Linked DNA regions of Homo sapiens. The protein of the gene in region 2 interacts with the protein of the main gene of each other region in a biochemical or structural test. Each region holds a gene or a part of one and is shown on either strand. Other genes may lie near its edges.

The links.
Region 1: the proteins of BCL2 (region 2) and NR4A1 form a complex in vitro, tested with the Homo sapiens proteins (2 studies listed by BioGRID).
Region 3: the proteins of BCL2 (region 2) and SEPTIN4 interact in a test that uses a peptide from one of them, tested with the Homo sapiens proteins (one study listed by BioGRID).
Region 4: the proteins of BCL2 (region 2) and BNIP3L form a complex in vitro, tested with the Homo sapiens proteins (one study listed by BioGRID and IntAct).

Annotation. Positions count from the first base shown.
Region 1 is NC_000012.12:52,047,394-52,054,452, reverse strand, and holds the start of NR4A1 (nuclear receptor subfamily 4immunitygroup A member 1), read right to left. Parts: upstream 3,012-7,059; 5' UTR 2,885-3,011; exon of another isoform or gene 2,790-2,884; coding exon of another isoform or gene 2,780-2,789; intron 1,958-2,779; exon of another isoform or gene 1,808-1,957; intron 127-1,807; coding exon of another isoform or gene 125-126; coding exon 1-124. UniProt on the Homo sapiens protein: Orphan nuclear receptor. Binds the NGFI-B response element (NBRE) 5'-AAAGGTCA-3'. Binds 9-cis-retinoic acid outside of its ligand-binding (NR LBD) domain.
Region 2 is NC_000018.10:63,127,768-63,134,790, forward strand, and holds part of BCL2 (apoptosis regulator Bcl-2), read right to left. Parts: intron 993-7,023; coding exon 858-992; 3' UTR 1-857. UniProt on the Homo sapiens protein: Suppresses apoptosis in a variety of cell systems including factor-dependent lymphohematopoietic and neural cells. Regulates cell death by controlling the mitochondrial membrane permeability. Appears to function in a feedback loop system with caspases.
Region 3 is NC_000017.11:58,520,307-58,527,329, forward strand, and holds part of SEPTIN4 (septin-4), read right to left. Parts: intron 6,673-7,023; coding exon 6,376-6,672; exon of another isoform or gene 6,008-6,375; coding exon 5,914-6,007; intron 5,512-5,913; exon of another isoform or gene 5,476-5,511; coding exon 5,389-5,475; intron 4,896-5,388; coding exon 4,772-4,895; exon of another isoform or gene 4,762-4,771; intron 1,796-4,761; coding exon 1,661-1,795; coding exon of another isoform or gene 1,576-1,660; exon of another isoform or gene 1,548-1,575; coding exon 1,430-1,547; intron 1,341-1,429; coding exon 1,239-1,340; intron 1,045-1,238; coding exon 948-1,044; intron 855-947; coding exon 692-854; exon of another isoform or gene 537-691; coding exon 437-536; intron 180-436; coding exon 120-179; 3' UTR 1-119. UniProt on the Homo sapiens protein: Filament-forming cytoskeletal GTPase. Pro-apoptotic protein involved in LGR5-positive intestinal stem cell and Paneth cell expansion in the intestines, via its interaction with XIAP. May also play a role in the regulation of cell fate in the intestine.
Region 4 is NC_000008.11:26,378,924-26,386,065, reverse strand, and holds the start of BNIP3L (BCL2/adenovirus E1B 19 kDa protein-interacting protein 3-like), read right to left. Parts: upstream 3,013-7,142; 5' UTR 2,936-3,012; coding exon 2,836-2,935; intron 1-2,835.

The DNA.
Region 1 (7,059 bases), on a different chromosome or scaffold from region 2:
CCTCGGGGCTGGCCAGGTCCATGGTGGGCTTGATGAACTCAGGGGTCAGGGGGTCGCTTGCCAGGTGGTCACGGGGTCCCGGACTCGGTGCTGGTGTCCCATATTGGGCTTGGATACAGGGCATCTCTGGAGAGAGAGGAGACCCCAGGGAGGGAAAGGAGAGTCAGTGGGACAAGCCTATAGCCTTGTCTCAAAGTATTTGGGCCCCAGAGCAGCAAGGTGGCAGGAATCCCAGCCTAAAGATGAGACAGAGGCACCGGGACCAGAGCACCCAGGAATCCTGACCCCTGGCCTGAGTACCATCTCGACCTAGGTGCCACAAAGCCCCTGGGCAGCGGCCCAGCATGAGTGGGCTCCATCAGAAGGCCAGCCACACCCTAGTCAGCCTGGGAACCCTAGGGGAGGCATACAGCCAGCATTTCTCTGCTAGAACAGGGGGAAGCTGTGTTCCTCCAGCCCCCTGCCCCTCCCCCATGGGGAAGGCATGGTGGGGGCCGGGAGAAGGGTGAGTGGGAGAGGCAGCCCAGCAAAGCCTCAGCCCAGCTCCCAGGAGCAGCTCCCTGGTTGTTTCGCCAACCAGGCACTTCCTGGGAATACTCCCAGGCCTCTGCAAAGCCCCTTTTCTCCTCCCCTCGCAGTGCCTAGGAAGAAGGACATCGTGAAAATGGAAGAGGAGCTGGAAGTGAAAGCCCACCTGCCTAAGAAGGCAGCCTAATGCAGAGGCCCTAGCCTGTCCCCCATTTCCACCCCAACCCTGCACACTGAGCAAAGGCAGCAGATCCCAAACCCACCCCAATCCTGCCATCTGGGGCTGGGAAGCCACTCTGCACTGCTCGAGATGCTCCCAGAAGCAAAGAGGAAGGGAACCTAGGCCTCCTCATCGGTAACCTGGCTCCAGACCTTTAAAGGCCATTTGCTGGGGACAGGGCAAGGGGGGAGGAAGGAGACCACAGCCCCCTGGACTCTCAGGAGAATGGACAACAGTACCTAAAAAGAATGTTCTGCTGCCCCCAGTTATCTTAATAAGAGAACTCTGAGAGTCCAGCAGAAGACTTAAGGAGAAGCCTGCTGGTGGGTGGGTGGAAGACATTCTGCCCCTGCCTGGGTCCCTCCACTAAAGCAGGGTCTGTGCCCTGAAGAATCCAGAGGCTCAGGCAAAGGGGGTTACACAGCCCCAGTCCCGAGGAGCCTGAAGAGAGCCTGAACAGAGATAGCATCATTCAGGCAGATCCTTACATTCACAGAATGGTCAAAAAATAATGCAGAGGAGGCTCCAGGACAGTCTCCCTCCCAACCTACACACCTGGGGTCTGCGTAACTCTGGCCTCACCAGTCAATGAGGGAAGCTGGAGAAGAAATCAAGCAGGAACAGAGTACCATAATCAAGGGGTGCAGTGATGGGGGCAAAGGCTGTCACCACCTCCTGGCCAAGAGCCCAGGAAGTCCTCTCTGGTCCTAGCCTTCCTTCTAACTCCACAGGCCCTGAACAGGGCACCTCCACCCCTAGCCTGACAACCAAGACAACAGAGACCCTTGTAGCTCAGGCCCCACACACCCAGTGGCACCAGTCCACAGGCATGCAGCACCCTGCGAGAGGTGAGGGTGGCCACATCTGCCTGCACTAGGACAGCCTGGCCAGGGATGGGCTGGGGGTGAAGGAGGAAAGACAGCAGTTGGGCAGAACTGGGCGCTTGTTCCTGCCTTATTCAAATCCTGTTTCTCCACCTGGACGTCCCACATCCGGATCAACCCCCATCAGTCCCTCCCCCTTCATGCAGGTTCTTAACAACACAAGATATGGACCTACATCTAGCCTCACAGGAGGGGGGAGCAGTCCCACAGGAGGAGGAAGAGGCGGGGTTGAAGGAGGCAGTGGGGAGAATCCGGCTTCAGGCAGGTCTTGGCAACAATGTGGCTTGCACCTGTTCTGCTGAACAAGCCTCAGGCTGCACCCTACCTGTAAGATCCAACAGAGACTACTGGGGGAGGGGGCATAGGGATGATCAGCATCTGGAGCTGGAATGGTTGGGAGGTATCCTCTAGGCAGCACCGCCCCAAGACTCCAACACTGGCAACTTCTATCCAGGATCCCCAAGGACAAGGGTTTCCACCTCTGTCTCTCTTTCTCTCTCTCTCTCTCTCTCTCTCACACACACACACACACACACACACACACACACACACGTGATCCAAGCCCCAGCGAAATCAATTCTCCCTGTGCTTACAGAGACCCTGCCCCGACCCCAAGAAGCCTCCTTTATTCAATACACAGCAAGCAGCCCTCCACAGGTCAGCCACCAAGCCAGTCACTTCCTTCAATGATCCGGAGGCTTCCTAACGCACCTCAGACAGAAAGTTCAGGGTGGGGAACCCCTGCCAACTCAGCCACAGCCTCTAAAGTGTTAAGAAAACAACCGGGACACTGGGAGGGAGCTGACAGGCTGGGAGGAAGGAGGGCCTTTTGGAAATCCAATCCCAGTTAGAATCGTACGGATCCCAGCAGCGCCAAAGCTCTGTGTACCTGTTCCCCCACGGTGCTGTGACCCCCATCCACACCCACCCAAGTTCAGAGCACCGTGCGCCCAGTTGGGCACCCTAGGAGACTGAACTAAGGCCAGCCGCCTGCTGGACAAGTCCCTACTCCCGGCGCCAACCCCAACCCCCTACAGCTTCCACTTTGCAGGTAGTCAACCTCCCCTACCTCCTACCCCGCACCCAGTAGTTTCCAGTCTGACCTGGGTTCTCATCCCGTTGTGCTACAGCTGCACACTACACCTACCCTCTTGCATGCCGGCCCTACAACATCCTCTCTGCCCGCGCGTACACCCATCTCCTTCATGCACCGCTCCTAAAAACAGATGCACGTTCCCCGAAGGGAACCTACCCGGCCGGCTCCCGCTGCCCCTGCCCGGACTGGCGCCCCGAGTCTCAGCCTGGTCCCTGGTCCCGCGTGCGCTCCCGAAGTTCTTCTGTGCACTCCCCCAAGTTTCGTAGCCTCCGCCACTGGGACTCCCCGGCCGAGCCCGACCCTCCTCTTAAGCGCTCCGTGACGCACGGGGAGGGGCGGGGGCGCCACTGACGCAGGCCGCCCGTCGAGCTTTGGCCATACAAGGGCGCGGGGGGCGGTGCGGTTCCGGCGGGAGGCGGCCAGGGGGAGGTGCGGCCCGGGGAGCCCGAGGGGGCGGGGCGAGGAGGGGGGGCCTGGAATGTCTGCGCGCGTGACGCACGCGGGGTTCCATTGACGCAGGGAGCGCGGATTGTTTGATCTATAAATAGGCTCCTCGCGCCCGCCGCGCCCGCTAAAAATAGCAGCTCCCAGGCCCACTAGGCTCCCCGCACCGGACTCGGGTCCCAGCTGGGGGCCCCCAGGTCCAGAATAACCAGCGGGAGGGCCAGAGCCCGAGAAGGGGCGCTGTAGAGACGCGGCCGCGGGGCTTCCCCGGATGAGGATCTCCTCACTCTCCAGTTGCTCCCGGGAGCCAACCGCGCCCGGTCCCTCCGGCTCCCTCCGAGCCTAGCCCCGCCTTTACACCTTCCCAAGCCCTTCCTGGAGCCCTAGGGTGTCGCTGCTGCCGCTGCTGGGCGGTCAGGACAGGCCGCGGGCTGAGGCGGGCAATTCGGACACACCCTGGGGAGCCTGCGCCCTCACCTCAGCCCTAGGCGCAGCTAGTGCACAGGACGCGGCTTCCCCAGCAGGGTCTCAGGCTGAGAGGCTGCCCCTGAGACGTCAGTTAGAGCCCTCGCTTAGTCCCTCCAGGCAGTCTCCCTACACAGGACCTTCCCGAGGGCAGGCGTTGGCCAGGCCCAAGCTCGGCCAACAGCTCTGGCTCCGCTCCACAAGCTGAACTTGGTTTCGCACCGTCCCCTCCCCAGCCCCTTACAGGGGGAGTGCACCCTAGTTGGGAAATTACCGAATTTCAGAACCGGGTGGAGCCTGAGAAATCTTTTCAAACTTGTGCCAACTCTTCCTCATTTTATAAACAAACAGGCTCAGAGAAATAATGGCACTTGCTGAAGGTCACACAGCCAGGTGGTGGCACACTGGGTTGGAACCCAGGGCCACAGACTGCATCTCTAGGGATCTCTCCACGCCTCTTATCAATACCCCTCCCCCTGTCCACATCAGGGAGCACCGGCCCTCCCAGCCTACCTCCAGCACCTGTGGGGAGGCAGCTCTGACCAGTTATCACCTGCCCGGTGGAGTGAGGAACAGCCCGCCAGGGCCCTGCTGGGCACAGACCAGGCTTCAGCCACCTGGAGCCTTCCCTGGTTTGGCCGTCACCCTTCCACCCTGATCTCTCCTGAGCCTGGGGAGCCCTCACGGAAAAGTAAGAGAAGAGGGAAGGGCAAAAAAACAAAAACAAGGAAAAGAGAGCCCTGCCACCCCACTGCGACCCCCATCCATTCCCCTTCTCCCATGTAAGTCAATATCCATGAGTTTCTGCTTCCATTGAGCCTGCACCCACCCACCCAGTTCTCAACTCATCTGGTCACCCCATAGGACTTTCTCTGCCCCGGAGGCTCTGCCGGCCCGATTTCCACCCTCAACCCCCATCACAGTTTTCCCACACCCTTGTCTCCAGCCCCCGCTTCTGCCCACTCAAAGGTCCCACAAGCACCTCAAATTTCATCTGTTCCAGACAGAACTTGTCATTTCTGCACCCCCTGCCTGCCACCTAATCTCTGCTCCTGGCTCCTGATGCCCCATTTGCAACTTTTCACTGTTTCCTGAAATTCTTTTTTGGAACATCTCTTGGGTCCTTTCCTCTCCCCGTTTTTGTTTTGTTTTGTTGTCTTTGAGACAAGGTCTTGTTCTGTTGCCCAGCCTAGAATGCAGTGGCATGATTATGGCTTACTGCAGCCTGGACCTCCCAGGCTCAAGCCTCTTGCCTTGGCTTCCCAAAGTGCTGGGATTATAGGCATGAGCCACTGCACTCAGCCTCTCCCGCTTTCCTACTGCCAGCCACAGCCCATGCCTCACTGGTCCCACAGACCAACTGCCTGCGCCCAGTGACCACTCCTCCTTTCCCACACCCATGAAGACCATCCATTAGCCTGCCTGTCTCCTCTTTCTAAAGCCTCACTGTCCACCACAGATGGAGCAGTCTTCATACACAGTTGACCCTTGAACAACACGTTTGAACTGTGTAGGTCCACTCATATGGGGATTTGGGGATTTTTTTTCAATCCAACATGGATCCAAAAACCCACATATACAGAGGGCCGACTTTTAGTATCTACAGGTTCCACAGGGCCAACAGTGGGACTTGAGTATTCGCAGTACAAGTTGGGGTCCTGGAGCCAACCCCCTTCATAAACCAAGGGGTGACTGTAATGCTGATGGCATTCAGTCATCTGGTCAGAACCTGCCAGAACCCTCCATCCCAGCATACAGTCTCAACGTGAATGCATCTGCAGAGAGCTCTGGGTTGCTCCAAACCATCTTCCTTCAAGGCCACTGGTTGAATGTGAAGTGTGGGCAGGATGATGCCAATTGGACCCATCCAGGATCCCTACCTCATTTCAGGCAAAGTTTTGCTTTTCTTTCTCTTAGGCTTTTCCGTAAGATTTTGCTTAGATTTTGTGGAATCCTTTTGTGGAAAATGACTCCACAGCTTAAAAAAAAAAAAGGTTTAAAACCACATATAGAATTCAAGTCCTCCCATTTTGCAGATTAGGAGTCAAGGGTTCCAAGAGGAGCTACACTTTGCTCAGGAGCACACAGCAAGTCTTGCTGGGTGGAACTGATCCCAGCTGTGTCACAGGCTGACTTCCTCACCTAGCACCCACTTTGCCCCAGGATGTCTCCCTCCACCCCAGCAGGGCCTTCCCTAGAAAATAAAACTAACTTTTTTTTTTAAGACGGAGTCTCGCTCTGTCACCCAGGCTGGAGTGCAGTGGCACTATCTCGGCTCACTGCAAGCTCCGCCTCCCGGGTTCACGCCATTCTCCTGCCTCAGCCTCCCGAGTCACTGGGACTACAGGTGCCTGCCACCACGCCAGCTAATTTTTTTGTATTTTTAGCAGAGACGGGGTTTCACTGTGTTAGCCAGGATGGTCTTGATCTCCTGACCTTGTGATCTGCCCGCCTTGGCCTCCCAAAGTGCTGGGATTACAGGCATGAGCCACTGTACCCGGCCAAAATAAAACCAATTTTAATAGGTAGCAAAAGATGATCAGCCAAGCCATTGTTCTTCCTGCCAACCAGCAAGAACAAGTGCGTTATCTGTGGCTTGACCAGTCTGTGCTCAATCTCAGCCTTGCTAGCTCTTTTTTTGTTTTTTGTTTTTGTTTTGTTTTGTTTTTGAGATGGTGCTGTCGCCCAGGCTAGAGTGAAGTGGTGCGATCTCGGCTCACTGCAAGCTCCGCCTCCCAGGTTCATGCCATTCTCCTGCCTCAGCCTCCTGAGTAGCTGGGACGACAGGTGCCTGCCACCACACCCAGCTAATTTTTTGTATTTTTAGTAGAGACGGGGTTTCACCGTGTTAACCAGGATAGTCTCGATCTCCTGACCTCGTGATCCACCCGCCTTGGCCTCCCAAAGTGCTGGGATTACAGGCGTGAGCCACCGCCCTCGGCCCAGCCTTGCTAGCTCTTTGAGAGTTGAACCAGCCTCAAGCTCAGGCACCCTCCTCTCCTCCTCACAACTTGGCATTTGTAAAAAGTGGCACAGACCATCCTGTGGGGTAGGCCCACCCATAAGCCCAAGGAAAACTGAGTGTGGTGAGGAGCTGTCCAGGTCCCTGGTCTGAATCTCAGCATCTAGCCTCCAGATCTGGGCCTGCAGCCCAGGCCCCACCTCCCCAAGCTGCTGCAGGTTATGGAGGCTGCAGTCCTGCTGCCCCAAAGCCTGGAGGAGGATAAGGAACTACAGCTGCCACCTGGTCATGCTTGCAGGGGTGGGAGATGGTGGGGGTGCTCAACACACCACATTCTGAAAATAAGTAAATAAGGAGAAAAAGGCAAAGTCCCTCTGTGGAAACACAGCTGGGGCCACCAATGCAGGTTCCCGTGTGGAGCACCTAGCCTAAGATAAAGGCGAGAGAGGTGAAAGGGGCT
Region 2 (7,023 bases):
TCTTACTCAGACAGAGCCAGTATTGGGAGTTGGGGGGTGCGTATCCAAAATATATGAATATACACAATCAGGGCTTAAGGTACTGGATGATATTGTATAAATTGCTAAAATGCTTTTCTCGGCACAATTGGTAGCTTAAAAAAATACTTTCCTATGATTTAAGGGCATTTTTCCCATCGCTGTCCTTCGGCGTGGAAATCTCAGTGGGTACTAGGTCCATCTGAAGTTCCCAACTCTTTTCCTCCCACCAGGTATGCATCATGTGAGTCATATGCAAAGAGTCTCTTCTTCAGGCCAGGGAGGCATGGACTTCCCCCCACAGGAACCCTCCCTCTGTTAATATCACAGCCCCCAGGGCAAAGAAATGCAAGTGAATGAACACCTTCTCCCCAGCCTCCAGCAGCCAGAAAGCCAGCTTCCCCAATGATCAGGTCCTTTTTCCATCCGTCTGCTCTTCAGATGGTGATCCGGCCAACAACATGGAAAGCGAATCTATGTTTACAGGCACAGAACATCCAGGTGGAGCCACACGAAGCGGTGCTTGGCAATTAGTGGTCGGATTTCCAAAGACAGGAGTTTTGATGGGACTGTCTTAAATAAATAAATCTTTTTTTCTTAATAATGTAAAAAATAAATGATATTTCCCTTTGGCAGTAAATAGCTGATTCGACGTTTTGCCTGAAGACTGTTAATTGTTGTGTGTGTGTGTGTCTGTCTGTGTGTGTGATGTTTATATGTGTGTTATTTTTTCTTAAACAGCCTGCAGCTTTGTTTCATGGTACATCACTGACAATGCATATTATTTCTACTGCTTTAGTGAACCTTTTGCATATTTGTTTGGGGCAGGCATGTTGACTTCACTTGTGGCCCAGATAGGCACCCAGGGTGATGCAAGCTCCCACCAGGGCCAAACTGAGCAGAGTCTTCAGAGACAGCCAGGAGAAATCAAACAGAGGCCGCATGCTGGGGCCGTACAGTTCCACAAAGGCATCCTGCAGTTGGGGGAGAGGAGGGAAGAAAAAGAAAGAGTATTAGAGAGAGAGCAGAGAATGCCACCCCACAGAGAAAGAGGCATCCTGCCAGGGCAGCCTGGGCACCTTCAGAAGGGTGAGAGGGGAAAAGGCAAATGCTCTTTGGAGGCCATGATTCAGAAACCACTGTTTTCATTAATTCAAGGCATATTTATTGAGACCCTCTTTACGTGCCAGCCATCTTAGAGATACAGCAGTGCATAAAATAGACTAAAAGTTCCTACTTCACGAAGCTTCCATTGAGTGGAACAGTATAGACAGCAATCAATATAAATTATCACATGGTGTAGGAGAGAGTGCTAAGGGCCGAGGAGAAAAACAGCAGAGGCAGTTAGAAAATATTAGAGGTTTTGCAATTTTAGCTAGCATGCCCATCCATAAAAGTAATAAAATCTAGCAATGATGATGACCGTCACACTCCTCGATTGAGTGTTGACATCTTATCAAATGTCTGACATGCATTATTTTAGTCTTTGTACCAAACTTTTTCTTTCTTTTTTTTTTTTTAGAGACAAGAGTCTTGCTCTGTTGCCCAGGCTGCAGTGCAGTGGTGCAATCATGACCCACTGCAGCCTCGAACTGTTGGACTCAAGAGTGATCCTCCTGCCTCCGCCTCCTGAGTACCTAGGATTACCATGCTTGGCTAATTTTTAAATTTTTTGTAGAGATAGGGTCTTACTATACTTTCCAGGCTGGTCTTGAACTCCTGGGCTCAAGTGAGTCTCCTGCCTCAGCCTCCCAAAGTTCTGGGATTAAAGGCATGCGCTTTCTCATCCAGCTAATTCTTTGTACCAATCTTATGAAGTTATTTTATTTGTTTCTGTTCTGAAGATGAAAAAGCTGAGAATCGCAGGGAATAAGAGACTTTTTAACAAGTGGCAGAGCCAGGCTTTGAACCCAGATAGAAACCAGCACCCTTCTCTCTGCTGATGCCCTGGCGTGGCTAACGGCAGCTCTATGAGAGCATTTGGTCAGTCAAGGGCTCAGTCAGTGGAGGGGCCAAGGGCGGCCTTGACTGGTGCAGTGCCAACCTCTAAGGTCAAGGTTCTCCTGGGGAAAGGGAGCTGTCAGGGGGTTTCTCTTGGGGGTGGCTAGACTGGACGACCACAACTCTGCATTTACTCAAATTGTGGATCTCACAAGGCAGGAGATCAGGGGTGTGTCACTGGATGTGCAGGTCCCTGAGAGACAAAAAGTGTCTCCCTTCCATTCCTATCTCTCCATCTCAAGTCGGGTCTGTAGTGTGTTGTAGCAAAGTCTACCCTCTGGATGGGCTTGGATTGAGCAAATCACCAATTGCTCATTTCCTAGATTTTGGGGAGATTATGTTTCACATTTGGGTCCAATGAGTATTTGGACAACTTTCTGAATGAATATTTGAATATATAAATCAGTAAATGAATTCTTTTTACTTCTGATTTATTCAGGATGAAGAAGAAAACAAGAATAGTTTCACATTATTCCCAACAACCCTGACTCAAAGCACACAGTTTTATTACAGGAAACAGTAACATACCATGACCCTGGACATCGCTGTTGGGAGGGGCTCCAACAGTGCACAGAGGGGTTCCCTTTCTCTGGGGCAAGGGCTGTAGCAGTGGGACCAGGGATTCTCTTTGTCTCCCTCATGCTGGGCATGGTTGTGGTGCACTATAGGTGCGTAGTAAATGTTTGTTCACTTAAGCTTTCTGAATACAATCATTGGTCTTTGGCTTAATGCTTTACCCAAATGCTTATGAATCTGTTTGAAATTACTCCTTCTATATGTAACAGCCTCTGAGAATCCTGAGGTAGTCTTGATGAGGATTTAAAGCATTGTTAGGGTAACTTTCCACATTATTAAATATAGATTTATACAATTATTTTCATGATATATAAAATGTGCCATACTTTAAAAAATTCATGTTTATAGTGTTTAAAACTTTTGCTATTATAAACAATATCATGATATATTTTTGTATATAAATTCTTGTCTATTTGTTCAGTTGCTTTTTTGAAACAAACTCCTAGAAGTGACCTCAGTTAACCAGTCATCAATATTGCTTCCAGACATCATGAAGGGCTTGCCTTGAGCCATCCTCACATTCTCATGGATTGCCCTCCAACCAATGCCACCTTTTACAAAAGGCAGGCAAGAATTTAGGGCGAGGGTCACACTGAGAGTGATCCTGTCCCCCAGGGGACATTTGGCAATGTTTGGAAGCATTTTTAGTGGTCATGATTTGGGGTGAGGGTGCTACTGGTATCTAGTGGGCAGAGGCCGCGGATGCTGTTCAACATCCCACAATGCACAGGGCAGCCCCCCAATGCTAACAGGGCCGAGGCTGAGAAACTCTGGTTTATAAGATGCTCTGTAATCACAGACCATAGAAGAACAGATGACCCATCCTGTGTGTCAACAGCATTGGTCAAATCAGCACAATCAGCTAGCCCAGACCAGCGACTGCTAACCCAGTGGGCCTTCTGCATCTTTGGAGGTCCTTGGTTAACTTTTACCAGGAGAGGGCGCAAGGGCTTTCTTCTTCTTTTTAAATATCTATTGTTAAACATTTCTAAATTTCAGTGTTAGAAAAGCGAGGCAATAGACGTACATAAAATGTGTGTTTAGTGCTCTTAGCACAGAGCTAAGGCACAATCATGATTGTCTGCCAAGATGCACACCCCTCTCCATATAAGCAGGGATCAGTGGGGCAGGAAGGAGTCAGGACTTCTCCACAAGCCAGAACTCTGCCTCTTCCAGGGAGCAACCCAAGACATCACAGACACGGCTGCAAATGTCAACTAGTCCTCCCATCCATGCTTCTCTCTCTGAGGGATGGGTAGGCTGAAACCCCCAATAGCCCAGCCAAAAGACACCCCAAATTTGTCAGGGCACTGGCAATAGGTTGTCTGCAATTTGGCTTGACATTGAGAAGGTCAGTGGCCGGGCTCTGAATCCCTTTAGTAATCAACAGAGTTTTGTGTGGCAAAATCTGAACCAGACTAAGCCCCTGATCATTTGTCCTGTCTGGACCTGAAGCCATCCTGGGAAACCGGAGGATGCAGGGACATACTCCAGCTGGCATTTTCTCCCAGTTGGTCTGGCACACAGTGCTGGAGAGCAGAAGAAATGCTGTCCCAAATATCCCCACCTCCTCAGAGCTGGAATAATTCCCTCTCACCACCCTCACCCCCACACAAATAACAGTGCTTCTCATGAACCTAACAGGCCATTTCTGATATGCATTACGTAGAACAATGTCATTTCTAGAGTGAGATGAGCTAAACTAGCAGCTCTTGGCCCAAAGCCTCAGCATAGAGATGCTGTTGCCATCCCAGGGGGCTGAGAAGGGCATGGGACTTGGAGGAGGAGTGTGGGTGAACCCTGGCTTTGATATTTTATTAGTTTATAACCTTCAGCAGATAACCCAGCCCCGAGCCTCATTTACTTCATCCATAGCCATAAAATTCATTATTGTGAAGATTAACGTAGGTCACTCAAAGCCATTTGTAAATTGGATACAGAAAGTGAGCTCGTGGCAGAACAAACACCTTGCTCTTGTCTGTCCTCTTGCAGACCTGCTCCGCACCTACTCAACCTGCCCTTCCCCCAAGAAGTTCTGCTGAGCCTGCCGTTTTGCAGAAGCAATTTCCTCTCTTAGCTTTCTGATCTGAGGATAGTCCGTAATTTCTATAGGAATTATGAATTAAAATGTATACATCCCGTGTTCTGGTCAAAGATGGGAAGTGATAATACAATGCCTACCTATCTGTCCTTCTTTACACATTATTAGAGTGTAGGGCTAGAGGGCAAGTCATTTAACCCCCTGGAGGTTGGAGCTGGCCTCTAAACTTTGCCCTTCTACAATTCCAAAGTGCAAAGGAGACCCTGCGGCTTCGGGACTAAAATGACCTGAAAGCTTCTTTCGTAGAAAGTCTTCCTGATTTTTCAAACATCCTGATTGGGGCGATTTCCGAAGTCTGTTTGAACAGTCTGTCATTATTTGTTTGAGTTTGAAAGCTGTTTTAAATAAACACATGCTCATTTTATGTATTAAAAGCAACAAAGAGGGAAAAAGAAAACCTGGGTCGTCATGTGATTCGGACAAAATCCCAGTCTATATATTTAGGAAGCTCTGTGTCCCTTGCTCATGTCAGGACTGGCAAGGGCTTACCCGACTTCACGGATCACAGGTTCACACGGAAAGGCTGGCACCGGCTCCTCCTATGAGGAGGAGATGGGCAGGGCCTCAGCTCTGGTGGCTCTGTCCACAGTGGCTTCCCCATAAATTTCCAATTCAGAGGCCACAGAGGATCTGAGTTCCACCCAGGGCTGGCCCAAGGGGACAGGATGGCTAAACTCCCAGCCGCAGCCTTGCTGCAGGTTTGGAACCAGGCCAGGTAGGTGTGGACGGGAACAGACCAGGGTCAAGACTCCTAAACTCAGCAAAGGTGTCCTCACCCCTCCGGGCCATGGAGCACTCCCACCTGGGAGGCAGCCATCCTCCAACATTTTCCTTTTCCGTTCAGAACCTTCAAGAATTTTTTTTTTTTTTTTTTTTTGAGATGGAGCCACTGTCACTCAGGCTGGAGTGCAGTGGCTCCCAGGTTCAAGCAATTCTTCTGCCTCAGCCTCCCGTGTAACTGGGACTACAGGTACCCTCTACTACGCCCGGCTAATTTTTGTATTTTTAGTAGAGAAAGGGTTTCATGTTGGCCAGGCTGGATTCAAACTCCTGGCCTCAAGTGATCCTCCCACCTTGGCCTCCCAAAGTGCTGGGATTACAGGCATGAGCCACCACCCCTGGTCCACTTCGAGAAATTTCACGTAAACCTAAAATGAGAATTTTTTTTAAAAAAGGTCAGATTGTCAAGAATGGAAGAGAAGGTTAATTCTAAGTGCTGAAAAGAATGGCATGCGGTTGGGGATATGGGCGGGGGTCCCAAAATAACCCTTATGCCCAGGTAAAGGTAAACATGGAGACCTTTTGAATTTGGTAATGCATATCAAAAGGCTTTTAAAAAGCTTTTGTTAGTAATTTCACTTCCAGTTATTTATTTTGGAAAAATAATAAAGTGCACAGATTATGTATAATAGCATAAACCTGGAAACAAATGTCTGAAAATAGATGACTGACAGCGCGTCCACATGATGGAGTGCTGTTCAGCATTAAAAGTCATACCCTATAGTTATTGGCAAGAAATTGTGTTCCTAAGGTCATATTGAGTAAAGCAGGACAAAACGGTCAGCAAAACACGATTCCACTTCTGTAAAAACCTAACATATACATGTGCGCGTTTACAAACAGAAAAAAATAATATAAAGGAAAACGCAAAGATGTTAACAGTGATTATCGTTGAAGGCAGAAGTAGGCATGAGGACATGGCATTTAAGAGGCTATTCTGATTTTTTTCCTTAGCTGTCTTTTCTAATTCAATACAAACATGTATATTACTATTTATGAAATATATTTCAATATATACTACATAGAATAATGTTACATTCTAAGTGCTTACTTAATCTGAAAAAAATCCAGACTCCATAATTTGACAGACAAAAATGCTGGGAGATGATGTCTAGTAGTGGGGAGACATGGGCTCCCAGGCAGCAGCCATGACCTAGAACCATGCAACAGGCCCCCGGTTAAGTGAGGGCCTCCTTAGACCCTGGCCCAGAAGAACTCTCATGAGCTCTGCCCCTCAGACCAATGCCTGCAATAAGAGGTTCAGGCCCCGAGCTCAGTGTGTGTTCTCAGCTCTCTATATACTGGGGAAATTTAATATGGCTTGGCTGGCTATAAGCAAATTCGAAATTCAGCTACATTCCACAGTCTTTGAGCTGACTATGCATGCAGACGTTATACAATCGAAGGGAATTCTAAGGGAGAAAAGCCACCCTGTCCCCAAAGAGCTTACACTCTAGAGAGAGGTAATGCCTCTATGTGCACATTTGAACTAAACTAAATCAATGGGTGCCGCCATTTTGTTCCTGCAGACTGCAGAGTCTCATCGG
Region 3 (7,023 bases), on a different chromosome or scaffold from region 2:
GCAGGGATGTAAGGCGAAGTGGCAGTAGCTGAAGGGGCCTGAGCAGAGCTGGTGCTGGGAGGGGCCGGCATGGACAGGAAGAAGAGGAGGAGATTTAAATATCCAGGGCTGAAAGCCAGTTAATAGTTCTCCTTCATCTGTTTTTGTATTTTGTGTAGCATCTCCTGCATCCGCCGCAGCTGGAATAGGCACAGGCATCAAAATGGGGACTTTTGGAGAGTCCTTTAGTATTGGGAAAGTGCCCCAAATTTCTAATCCCTTAAGCCAGAACCTTGGTAGCCGTGAGGTGTGATGGAGACTCTGGACAGAACCACCTATTGACCTATCCAGGACCCAAATATGCACCAGAGCCAGGGATCTTTCTATTACCAAACAAAGAGATACCAACGTTGGTGATCAAACAGGAGACCTCCCCTATACCCCATACTGCTCTCACCTCCTCATCTTTCTCTCGGATAAGCTTCTCAGTTTCTGGATCTGTCCCTGGTGGGACAGCAGGGATGGGGAAGTCGGTACCACTTTCCCGAGTCAGTTTGCTAAAGGGAGAAAAGGGTTGATAAGGCGAGGAGGACCCCAGCACCCGCTTAGATTGAGCCCAGGGCCTATAGAAGAACAAAAGTAGGGCTTGGTCTCACCCAAGGCTAGGCTTGGGATCTCCCCCTGCCAGCTTTGTCCTGGCTTCTGGTCATACTTGCGATTCCGTTCCTTCACCACCAGGCGGGTCATGCTCTGGATGCACTGTGCCCGGTAGTTCTCATAATGTGTCTCCCGTGTCACATCCTTCAGGTCCTGCATGTGGGTACGTACCAGCATTGTCCTCAGCTTCACAAAGTCGCAGTGCCCTGGGTTTTCCACTGCATAGCAAGGCTAGGGGTCAGCCAGAGGCATAGGTAGGGGAGAGCCACTGAGGGCAAGGAGATACCCTGGTCACAGGCTCAGTGCTTTACCTTCCACGATGCCCCAGGGGTAGAGTCGACCCCGAACTCGCCGCCCTCTGGCCTCTACTACAGTGTTGCTGCCAATTACTGCAAATGGGATGCTTTCCTGGAAGAGGTTAGGGGTGCCTGTCAGCACCCTCTGTTCTCACCTCTTTCTTTCCACCTGTATCGTCATCTTCTCTGCTTCATTCTAGGAAGCCAGGGTCCTTTCCCACCCTGATAGCCTGAATATAGAATTCTACTCCCTTTTTCTACCCGGAAGAAATAAGATAGGAATGGGATGCCCTAGAGTGGCCCCACCTTTAGGGCTTGGTCCTGCAATTTGAAGTCCTCATCCTCATCAGAGTCACAGTCTGGGAATTGATAGATCTTGATTCCAAAATGCTCAATCTCCTCCCGGATCTGACAAACAGATGAGGGGCCCACAGTTCTGGGGACCACATCCTTTCTAGAAGCCCACCTGATCCCCTCCCACCACCAGCTTCCCTCACTTTGCGTTTCTTGTGGTCCACTTCGGGAGGTGTCAGTGTGTCTGCCTTAGCCAGGATAGGCACGATGTTGACCCGCTGATGCAGGGCCTTCATGAATTCAACATCCAATGGCCGGAGCCTGGGGAACAGGAACCTGTGACCACCTGCTAGTGGCAGCCCTGCCCCTGGTGCTCTTGGCCTGTTCCCTTGACAGCACCCGGTGGTGCCAGGAGCCTCAGGCTTGGACCATACCCATGGCCGAAGGGTGAGATGAAGTACAGGCAGCAGTGCACCCTGTTGTCTTGGATGTTCTTTCGGTTCAGGCCACTCTCGTCTCGGAAATACTGCTCAAACTGCTGATCAATGTATTCTGCCACAGGCTTCCAGCTGGGGCAGGGACAGACAAGCAGAGAAACTGTGAGAGTGGGAGCCACCTAGTGAGCTCTGGGACTACAGAGAAGTAGCCCACTCCCTGAGCAGTGTTTTTAAGACACTGTTATTCCCTGGCTTGCTTTACTAAATCTTTAGAGAAATTCCTGAATGGGGTGGGGTGTATCTCACATGTCCTGATACAAAATTAGACTGAGTACTCAGGCAAGTTTAATAAATACTAGCTTGATGAGAGGGAAAGGGCCCAGGTGATCAAACAAAGCAGTAAGAATAGGCTGGGCACGGTGGCTTACCCCTGTAATCCCAACACTTTGGGAGGCCGAGGCGGGTGGATCACTTAAGGTCAGGAGTTTGAGACCACCCTGACCAACATGGTGAAACCCTGTCTCCACTAAAAATACAAAAATTAGCTGGGCGTGGTGGTGTGCACCTGAGTAGTCCCAGCTACTCAGGAGTCCGAGGCAGGAGAATCACTTGAACCCAGGAGGCAGAGGTTGCAGTGAGCCAAGATCATACCACTCCAGCCTGGGTGATGGAGCCAGACTGTCACAAAAAAAAAAAAAAAAAGAAGAAGAAGAAGAAAAAAAGAATAGCAAGGTGGCTGCAGGCAAATACCAACTGGAAGCCAGGGAAACCCTAAGTCAGGTTTCCAGTGTAACCTCAGAGCCTCTTTGCTCATGTGTTTCTACCCTTTCCTCTACCTCTCCAAACCCACTCCATCCTTCAAGGCCCTAAGAACCATCTCTTCCACGAAGTCTCCTTTGACTATACCAATACACACTGCTCTCCCCTTCTCTTCACTACAAAGCAAAACAAATAAATAAATAAATTTCCCCAAGAACCTCAATTTTCATATCCTTTGCTCTTCTATTATCTTGTTTAATCCTCACTGCCCTGACAGGTGGACATTATGCATTATGATCATCATCACTCTCATTTCATACATGAAGAAACTAAATCCAGAGCAGCTAACAGATTTGCTCCAGGCCAGGTGTGGTAGTTCACGCCTGTAATCCTAGCACTTTAGGAGGCCAAGGTAGGCTGATCACTTGAGCCCAGGAGTTCAAGACCAGACTGGGCAACATAGCGAGACCCCCATCTCTACAAAAAATACAAAAAAGTTAGCTTGGTGTGGTGGCATACACCTGTAGTACCAGCTACTTGGGAGGTTGAGGTGGGAAGATAACCTGAGCCCGGGGAGCCCCGGGAGGTGGTTGATCAGGCCACTGCACTCTAGCCTGGGCAACAGAGTGAGAACCAGTCTCAAAAAAAAAAAAAAAAGAAAGGAGGAAGGAGAGGGAAAGGAAAAGGACTTTCTGTAGGTCATTTAGCTAGTAAATTCTCTACCCACCTGAACCCCTACAGCTCAGTGCACTTGCCACTACACATTGCCTGACCCATTTACTAATTTAAGTTGCTATCTGATTGAAACATGTTAGAGAACTGCCCCCACCTCCCCTGCTTCCCTGTTGCCACTTGACTATAAGCCTCTCAGGGATAGGAATCATTCATGCTTGTTCTGAATCCCTTAAAATGTCCACCACAGGCTGGACATCTAGTATGTGCTCACATTCTAGCTGATTTGATGCTCTGCCGTTGCCATGTTGAAATTCTTAAAAATTTTGAACACGGGGCCCTACATTTTCATTTGCACTGGGCCCAACAAATTATGTTGCTGGTCCTGCAATTACCATTGTTAAAATTCCTGAGTATGCTGTAAATAGCCCTTTACACTTTTCAGTGCGCATGCATCATGTTGGGTGATGTTCAAATCAATTGGAGAGGTGGTAAGGGCTGGTATATTTTAATTAAATAAGTGTCTGACAAAATGAATATATATGGAGGTACACTTTAAACTGTGAGGTGCCTGGCAAATGAAATTATTAGTATTATGGAAGGTAAGAGACAGTAGGTAAATTGATTGAAGGAGATCATTTGCTCAAGATCATGAAGTTACTAAATGCCAATCAAGATTTGAACTCTCTGTCTAGGGCTCTTAGCACTGCCTGCCTAACTTCTTCATCAAAGCTACCACCTTTTCTCCTGTCAATCTCATCCATTTCCCTCTTCATCTACTCACTTAGGTCTGACCATTACCTAAGCTGGAGGTAACGGTCAGACCTACTGACCATTAGCTGGAGGGGGGTCCCTCCAGTGCCTGAAAAATAAAAAAGCCCGAATGATAGGGGGTTGTGGTAAATCCAGCTTTTCTTTCGGCAGGTAGCCTAGAGGGTGCCTGGAGTTTAAACAAAGTTCCACCATTTTTCCCTTTTGCCTATTCTTCCTCACCTTTACCCTCCCTCCATACATGCCCAGCCCTTCAACAAGATTGTGTGCGGCACCTAAAATGTTGCTAGTGAAAGGAAAAAGGGTGACAGTTTATTCGGCATCTACTATGTAATCAACTCTGTGCTACATGTTTTCACACTTCACATGTGTTTGTTTTTAAGGCTCTTCTTTCTTATCTTTTTTTTTTTTTTTTTGGAAGGTTTCGCTTTGTCTTCTAGGCTATAGTGCAGTAGTGCAATCATGGCTCACTGCAGCCTCAACCTCCTGAGCTCAAGTGATTCTCCTGCCTCACCCTCCCCAGTAGCTGAGACTACAGGCCTATGCCACCATGCCCAGCTAATTTTTAAAACTTTTTGTAGAGATGGGATCTTACTATGTTGCCCAGGCTGGCCTTGAACTCCTGGCCTCAAGTGATACTTCCGCCTCAGCCTCTTCTTTCTTATGTCCCTACCCCATTATAGAATCATAGGGCAGAATTGGAAGGAACATTAAAAATCATCTATTCCAATCCTTTCCCTCTTACTTTATAAAGGAGGAGATGGCTGTCCAGTAAGGGAAGTCACATGCTCAAGGTCATAGACCGCTTCCTCCTGATAAGTATGGATATATCTGGGCCTACGTGTGTACCTGTGTATGGAGAAGGGTGGCTCAGGGGCAGCTGGGATTGTGCTTACTCAGACATACCACTCTGTGTTGTTGACTGCATCCCCAAAACCTGGTGTGTCCACAATGGTGAGCCGCAGCCTCACACCCTTCTCTTCTATGTCCACTGCATGCTTAGTGATCTCCACAGTTTGCATGATCCTCTCTGGAGAAAGGGGAAACTGAGGCCAGGGCAAGGGCAGGGACCTGCCCAGTCAGGATGAACCGCCCACCCCAACCAGCCTTGTTGCTCAGACTGCCTAATCCACACTGCCCCCTTCTCCACTCCCAAGCTGTCTGGGGGACTGTTCTCTGGGAACCAGCAAGGAGTACATTTCCCAACACAGGAAATGCCGGTGGCTGTTGGCTCTGGCCCCAGCCTCTTCTCTGCTCCCGGTTTTTTTCTTGGATTCCTGGAATCCTTGGGGGTCAGAGACTCATTCAGAGAGCAAGACTCTGGTCTCTGCCCTGCTTCAGCACCCAAATCTTTAGGGAGCTGGCTGGTGGGCTGCCAGGCAGTTAGGCCTATGGAGAGCTGCTGTCAGTCTCTCTAGGAGGCCATGGTTTCCTGCATGTGGGGGAGAGCCCCATCCCCCAGACTCTGGAGTGAGTTTAATTTCCCAAGGCAAGTCTGCCTGATTGTCCTCTCCTTTCCTTACCTTCAGCACCAAGAAGTTTCCGGTCCCGGTACAGATCAGTGAGGAAGAGGCTATTGACAAGTGTGGATTTGCCCAGGCCAGACTCTCCTGAGAGGAGAGAGGACAGAGGCACCAAATCAGAAGGTAAGATCTATAGCCAAAAAGCAACTCCACTGGATCAAGGTTTAGGGGGGACTGCTTTCTTATCTAATTGGAACTAGACTAACCAAACTATAGCATTTTAGAGCTGGGAGGAAGCACAGAGATTGGCTTGGGGGAGCAAGAGATTGCCCAGGGTCACACAAAAAGAGGCAAATGCTAGGAAACTGTTGGTCAGATGCTCTTTGCAACCAATTCGAACCCCCACCCCCACCCCACCCCACATACATACACTCTCACAGGCCAATGACTCCTGGCTGTTTTGCAAAACAGTACAGCCACTCGCTGCTTGCTCCCTGCGACCTATACTCCCTTCCCACTCACGGACACACACACCATCCCCACCTGAAACACACCCTGCCCAACCCAGCCCTGCCCCTTTTTTACCTGCCACCATGAGGGTAAAGTCAAAGCCTTTCTTCACGGACTTTCGGTGGACTTGGTTGGGGAGGGTTGCAAAGCCCACATACTCCTTGTCATCCTAGTAGACAGGAAGGCAGAATGCATCACGGTGAGGAGCCAAAGGGGCCCCGGCACCCAGCGCCAATCTTCTCTCCCTTTCAGGCCTTTGCCCCAGCCTTAAAAAAGCAGTGCCAGACTTCTGTGAGTTCCCATCTGAGGCCACCAGCTGGGCCTCCTGCCCTTGCTGAAACTGCAAATTTCCAGTGCCCTTGGGGGCAGATATCTTGGAGCTAGGGCTGACACAGGACTGAAATAGGTCCCAGATACACACACACACAAACACACACACACACACACACACACACACACACACACACACTCTGCTCCCTGCCCCCGGTCTTCCTGCAGCAGCCCACTGAAAGGCAAAGGCAGGGCTGGAGGCTCTACCTCAGAGGAATCATAGGGATCAAGCTTGCCCCATGGGCTGCGGGGCCTGGCAGATGGGCTGAGAGGGGCTGGGGCACAGAAGTACTGCTGGTTGTCAGAGGACTGGGGCCGCGAGGGGGGTCTGAACTCCAGGTCATCATCATAGAGGTCCGGGGCCTGGGGCCTTGGCTCCGGGACTTGGGGCCTGGATGCCCAGGTCTTAGCCTCTGGTGGGTGGCAGCTCGCATTTCCTGAGAAATCCTTCACGAACTTGCTCAGTTCTCCATCATCCGTGGTGTCCTCCAGGAAACGCTTGATCTGGGGGAAGCGGGGTGGGTAGAATAGATGGGTGGTGCCGGGAAGGGAGCCGGAAGGGAAGAATGAGGAAGGAGACAGAAGACAGGAGAAGGCAAGAGGGAAAGGGAAAGCACTTGTGGTTAGAAGAAAAAGAAACTGCAGCCAAGACAGAGGAAGTGCTCACCATCCCTCCCTCACCTGCTCACAAGCCTCCCCAATCCAATATGCCAGGAAGGGTCCCAGGGTCCAGGAAGAGCCCTGGGCACCCCCAGAGCCCTGGCAACTGCTCTTGGGAACTAAGGAACTCCAGTTCTGGTCTCCTTCTCAGCAGCATGTTTTTTGAGGCTGCCTTTCCTGGGGTTCTGGCCTAGC
Region 4 (7,142 bases), on a different chromosome or scaffold from region 2:
CTTCTCCTGTTTTTCAGTTGTGCAACTTTACCCAACAAAGTCCTTCGACTTATCAGCAATTTGGATAGTACTAGATGCCTGAATAAGTTGTTTTGCCCATTGCCCAAAAATCACTTCAAGGAATTCAATGAGGCTTCTTGTTTTGTTCAGTACAGTGTTGTGTAATGAGCTAAAAAAACGAACAGAGTGAGAGGCAAGAAGGGAGTAATTAAATATGGCAATATCTAAAAGCTTTTCAGAAAGCTCACCCTATCCCACACAAAATACTTTCTATCTAGCAGATGTCCCAAAGCAACATTTTGATGTCCCATGCAGGCTGAGTGTACTTCCACCTCTGTAAGAGCTGATGTCAGCCAAGCAGGAACCGACTGGCCAAAGACATCAAACTCCTCATAGGTCTGTCAGACACCAAGATAAACAATGACATATGGCTCAGCCCCCGCCCTCGCCCCTTTTTTTTTTTGAGACAGAGTCTTGCTCTGTCACCCAGGCTGGAGTGCAGTGGCGTGATCTCGGCTCACTGCAACCTCTGCCTCCCGGATTCAAGCGATTCTCCTGCCTCAGCCGCCTGAATAGCTGGGATTACAGGCGCCCAACACCAAGCCAGGCTAATTTTTGTATTTTCAGTAGAGAGGGGGTTGTTCTCTCACCATGTTGGCCAGGCTGGTCTCGAACTCCTGACCTCAAGTGATCCACTCGCTTTGGCCTCCCAAAGTGCTAGGATGACAGGTGTGAGCCATCGTGCCCTGCCTGGCTCAGCCCTTTTTGTTGTTGTTGTTAAAGGGTCAAAGGAAGATGAAAATCCCTTTGCTTTCAGTGAAATCACGTACACCTACCAAGTATCTTCACTCATAAGAAAACTGTACAATTAAGAAACAATACTAAAAAGAAACAGAAAGGTTGGCCACCTTTGTCAATTAGGTAGAATAACACACTGACAAAATAAGACACACACACCAGCAGGAGGTTCTGCACCACTGAAAAGAAGCCGGTGCGATGGCTCAAGCCTGTAATCCCAGCACTTTGGGAGGCCCAGGCGGGCGGATGACGTGAGGTCAGGAGTTTGAGACCAGCCTGGCCAACATGGTGAGAGACCAACAACCCCCTCTCTACTGAAAATACAAAAATTAGCCTAGCTTGGTGTCGGGCGCCTGTAATCCCAGCTACATGGCGAAACTTCGTCTCTACTAAAAATACAAAAATTAGCTGGGCGGGTGGCAGGCACCTGTAGTCCCAGCTACTCGGGAGGCTGAGGCAGAAGAATCGCTTGAACCTGGGAGGCGGAGGTTGTAGACAGAGCGAGACTCTACCTCAAAAAAAAAAAAAAAAAAAAAAAAATGTCCTCAAAAGAGCAGTAGACAGGCTGAACATGAGAACCTCTGCTTTGCTCCCAGCCGGTTGTGAACTTGGACAAGGCCATTTACTCTAGACCTGTTTCTCTACAGGCAAACAACAGGAGGCAGTTAGCTAGCTCTGAAGTTTCTTCCCATTCTAAAATCTAAGACAGTATGCTAAACATGGGCAAATAACTTAAAATTGCATAGGAATATGTGATACAAGTAACGTTTAAAGACTCATACATTCATCCTAATTTACTGTGGGAAATAATATAACCATCTTACATTCTGGAATATATGACACTTAAAGGTTTTGGGAATTAACCCATCAAAACCTGGAGCAGCAGCATCCATCTTAAAATCTCCAAACTCCATCGCTACCTGGTGAGGGCTGAAACTCTCTTCCCTAAAATAATCTTCAGGCCACACTGGAAGCACCTCCCTCTTACGAAAGATACTGCATGACCTTTAAGCATCCAAGTGGTTTTGAAAAGACTTCATCTGGCCATATGCTCACTGCTCCCATTACCTCTTTCCCAAGAGTTGAATTAAAGAAAGGTTAGGCAAGAACCCTTCCAAGAAGGCTCCCGGTTCTCACGACTAGGAACAATCTGAGGACAAGATGTCTGGGCAGCGGAATGTTATGAAAAGACCCTGGCCTGGGTTGTCTATCAGCCTCGTCCGTTAACTTTCAACTGCCCGAGTGCGTTTTTAATTCCGTTTCTTTAAATGCATGGCCCCAGACTCCCTGACGTGTGCAATCTTGGGTGGTTCAGGAGGCTGCTCTCAGCTTTACTGGGCGCACAACCCATCGCTTTAAAAAAAAAAAAATCACTTGGGCAACTTCGAGAAATCTAATAAAAAAATAAAAAAGGAAAAAGGAGAAGCAAGGCACAGCCTCTCACCCCACACGTGACTGAAGCCAACCCTAGACGAGCAAATGAATTTTCCTGACAAACGTGTGGCAACAAAGGAATGCTCGCTGGGGGGCTCCCGCGCCCGCCAGACGCTGCCCGCCCGCGAGCCCCGCACACCTGATCCCCGACACGTCCCGCGGCAGCCGCCCGCCCCGCCCCGCTCCCGCGCGTCCATCCCCCGGCGTCCCCGCCGCACGTCCCCATCCCGGCCCACGTCCCCTCCGCGGCCCGCTCCGCCCACCCGGCCTCCCCGCCCCCCAGGCCCGCCCCCGCCCCGCCCCGCCCGGCTCCGCTGCTGGGGACCACCCCCCGCACCAGGGGGATCCGCGCTACCCGCGCCGCTCCCGGACCGCGAGCCCAAACGGCCCCGGGCCCAAGACCCCAGGAGGCAACAGAGAGGCCCGGAGCAAGGCAGGCGCCCCTCCTCTTGACAGGGGACGGGAGCTGTCAGTCACCTGGACATCCCATGCCTGAGCCAATGAGCTGCCTTCTCCTCCCGCCTCCCGCGCCGCGCCGGTGGCGGCGGCCGGGGCTGCTCCTCCTCCCCCATCCCCTTCACAGAGCCTCGGCCCCGCACTCACTGTTGAGGCCGGCCGGCGGGGGCAGAGACTGCTCATTTTCCTCGCAGTTGTTGTTGTTGTTGTGCAGGGGCGGCGGCGGCTCGACTAGGTGGGACGACATTGTCGGACAGCTGGCAGGACTGCGGCAGCAGCAGGACCGTCTCCGGCACTCAGGCAGCAACACAACAAGCCGAGTCCGCCGCCCCCTTTTCTGCGCCTGCGCCGTCCCTCCCCTGCCCCTGACGTCAGGGCCCGCCCAGGCCACGTGATGACAACACAACAAGCGACCGGACGGGGCAGGGGCGCTCCCCTGCGGGCCCCGGACGTGGAGACGCTCGAGTCAGGCTGACGCGCGCGCCGGGAACGAACTCTTGCGTGTGACTTGGGATGACCGGATGGGATGAGTGATGCCAGTGGCAGTGGGAGAGAGGATGAGGAGAAACGGAATGAGGAAGTGCGCTCCTGTGTTCGCGCCCGTGCCTCCTCTCACACAGGCTCCACAGTGCTTCACCCAGCCCTGCGCACGCATCTGTTTTCTACCTCTTAGGACTCACTTCTGCAATAGGTGTCTTGGGGACACAAAGGAATCCCCAAACCCAGGTGCCTCCACGTGTAAACTCCAAATAAAGCTGCTGAAACATCAACACTCCATACGGGAAACAAGGGAAGGCCGCCCCCAAATTTAATTGTTACAGAATTTTTAAAATGTCGATTACAAACACACCATCATTCTGAAAAAAAGAGAAAGAAGAAAGGGGAAGAAAGAAAAAAGAAAAATTCAGGAAAACAGAGAGAAGAAAGTACTCACCCAAATCCCATCGACTAATCGATTTCTGGGACATGACGTGGGAAGCCGTTTATCCTGTACGTGGATGACATTAAACTATGTTCCTGAGCACACCTCCTACTTCACATCTCCATGTCTTCGTCCAGTCTCCTTGGTCTGATTTATGAGTGACATATGTTTCTCGCAGTCTCTAACTTGTCTTTTAATTTGTTTTTTTCACTCTGTAGAAGCTTAAGGTTTTCATGTAATCAGATTTATCATTCTTACATGGCTTGGGGAGACAGTCACACCAAGATTACTAATCTATAATTCCCTTATAACTTTTTCTAATTTTCTTATAGGCTTAACTTTACATTTAGAGCTCTAATCCATCTGAAATTTATTTTCCATATGCTGTAAATTATTTAACTTCAATTCTTCCCAATTTTGTAGCCCATTGACCTAATAATATTAATTTTAAGCCATCCTTTCTACACTGATTTGAAATTGCACCTTTGTCACTCTCTGAATGACCACAAAAATGTGAGTCTGTTTCAGGGCTATCTGCAATACCTCTGTTAGATAACTATTAAAGTTTCTCTTCCTTTGTCTTTTTCAGATGTTAATGGCTAGTTACTCTTCAGATGAACTTAAAAATGGACTTGTCCAAGATTGACCTTGTGTTGGTAATTATTGAAGCTATGTAATACATTAAAGTATTCCTCTAATTTTTTAATATATTTGAAAAAGTCCATGCTAAAAGGTTTTTTTTAAGGATTGATTTGTCAAATCCCTTTGCAAATTCTTTTAAGATTTTGGTCAGAAATGAACTCTATTAATAGATTGAGTGCTGTTTCCGGTCATACCCGGAAGCAGGAGTTCAAGCCGCAGCTGGTAGGGATTGGCGGCTGCTGGCCATCTGAGTTTTATTAAAACTGCTCGCCGCGAAGCCAGTCTTCAGCCAGAATGTCCAGCAGAAACAACAACAAGCTGCCCAGCAACCTGACTGCAGTTACAGAATCTGATGAAGCGAGACCCACCACCCTCCATCTAGGAGTTTCTACAGCAGTATAATCACTACACATCCAATGTGGAGATTTTCAAATTGCAACCATATAAACCCGGTAAAGAACTAGCAGAGCTGGTGGTGTTTATGGCACAGAACGTCCTAAATATGTGCATCTGAATAATAGGAGAGAAAGAGAGAAACTTCAGAAGAGCCTTTGCTTTGTTATAGATTAGTTACTGCTACCCAGGGTATCTAAGTAATTTTCCTCAAGTGGTGAAAGATCTTCTGTCCTGTAATCATACTGTATTGGATCCAGATCTTCGAATGACATTTTGCAAAGCTTTGATCTTGCTGAGAAATAAGAATCTCATCAATCCATCAAGCCTGCTAGAACTCTTCTTTGAACTTCTCTGTTGCCATGATAAGCTTCTGCAAAAGACTTCATACACATATATCGTGACTGATATCAAGAATATAAATGCAAAACACAAGAATAAAGTGGATGTAGTATTGTAAAATTTCATGTATACCATGTTGAGAGATAGCAATGCAACTGCAGCCAAGATGTCTTTAGATGTTATGATTGAACTCTACAGAAGGAACATCTGGAATGATACCAAAACTGTCAATGTTATCACAACTGCATGTTTCTCTTAGGTCACCAAGATATTAGTTGCTGCTTTGACATTCTTTCTTGGAAAAGATGAAGATGAAAAACAGGCCAGTGACTCCGAATCTGAGGATGACGGACCAACAGCAAGAGACCTGCTAGCACAGTATGCTACAGGGAACAAAGTTCCCAAAACAAGAAAAAGTTGGAAAAGGCAATGAAAGTGCTCAAGAAACAAAAGAAGAAGAAAAAACCAGAGGTGTTTAACTTTTTAGCCGTTCACTTGATTCATGATCCCCAAGATTTTGCAGAAAAACTACTAAAGCAGCTTGAGTGCTGTAAGGAGAGGTTGGAAGTGAAGATGATGCTCATGAACCTCATCTCAGATTGGTGGGAATTCATAAGCTCTTCCTCTTCAATTTCTATCACTTTTTGCGAAGGTTTCTGCAGCCCCACCAAAGAGAAGTAACAAAGAACCTTCTGTTTGCTGCACAAGCATCTCATCACCTAGTACACCCAGCGATTATTCAATCATTGCTTATGACTGTGGCCAACAATTTTGTTAACGACAAGAACTCTGGAGAAGCCATGACAATAGGAATCAATGCTGTAAAAGAGACAACAGCTCAGTGTCCTCTGGCCATGACTGAAAAGCTTCTCCAAGACCTGGCTCAGTATAAAACACACAAGGATAATAATGTAATGATGTCTGCTAGAACTTTGATTCGGCTCTTCCGAACACTGAATCCTCAGATGCTGCAGAAGAAATTCTGGGGTAAGCCTACAGAAGCCTCCATAGAAGCAAGAGTACAAGAATATGGAGAATTAGATGCTAAAGGTTACATTCCAGGAGCAGAAGTTCTGGAAGTTGAGAAAGAGGAGAGTGCTGAAAATGATGAAGATGGATGGGAAAGTACCAGTCTCAGTGAGGAGGAGGATGCCGATGGCGAATGGGTTGATGTGCAACACTCTTCCAATGAAGAACAGCAAGAAATTTCCAAGAAGCTGAACACCATGCCCATGGAGGAGCAGAAAGCCAAAACTGCAGCCGTCAGCACCAGTCGAGTTTTAAGTTAGGAAGACTTCCAGAAAATCCGCATGGCGCAAATGAGAAAAGAACTTGACGCTGTCCCCGGGAAATCCCAGAAGAGGAAATATATTGAAATCGACAGTGATGAAGAGCCGAGGGGTGAATTACTTTCTCTTCCGGACATTGAACGCCTTCATAAAAAGCCAAAATCTGACAAAGAGACAAGACTAGCAACTGCAATGGCTGGAAAGACAGACCGAAAAGAATTTGTGAGGAAGAAAACCAAAGTGAATCCATTTTCCAGTTCAAAAAGTAAAGAGAAGAAAAAACAGAAGAACTTTATGATGATGTGGTATAGCCAGAATGTCTGGTCAGAAAATAAGCGTTCCTTCTGAGAAAAACAGTTGGCGCTGCGAGATGCCTTTTGAAAAGAGAAAAAGAATGAAGTAACTTCCCAGAAAGTTTTCCATTCCAAGAAGAATGCTAAGTTTGTGTCATTACTCTGAAAATTGGTAAATCAAGCATGTTTGTTTACATTAAAAAGTCCAGAAGCACTATATTATGAAAACTGCTGAAAATGTGGCAGCAATTTGGTGTTTTTATTTTGGGGACAGCTAATGATGGGAAATGTTAATGTAAATAGTGGTGGTAGTGTAATATCATTTATCATTCATGCAAAAAAAAGTATTGAGTGCCTATTAATTGTCACTGTAGATACAAAATGACTGAGTTGTAACTACCCCTTCACTCAAGGCATTGACAGCTTAGTTGTGGGGGTGGACACAGACGTGTATTTACAGTGCAGTGTAAATAGTTCTCTAGTAGAGGTAGGTCCACATTTCTATGCAGACACTGAGGCCTTATGGACTAACTCTGTGGGGATGGGGGTTATATATTCCTGTAAAACAAAGCA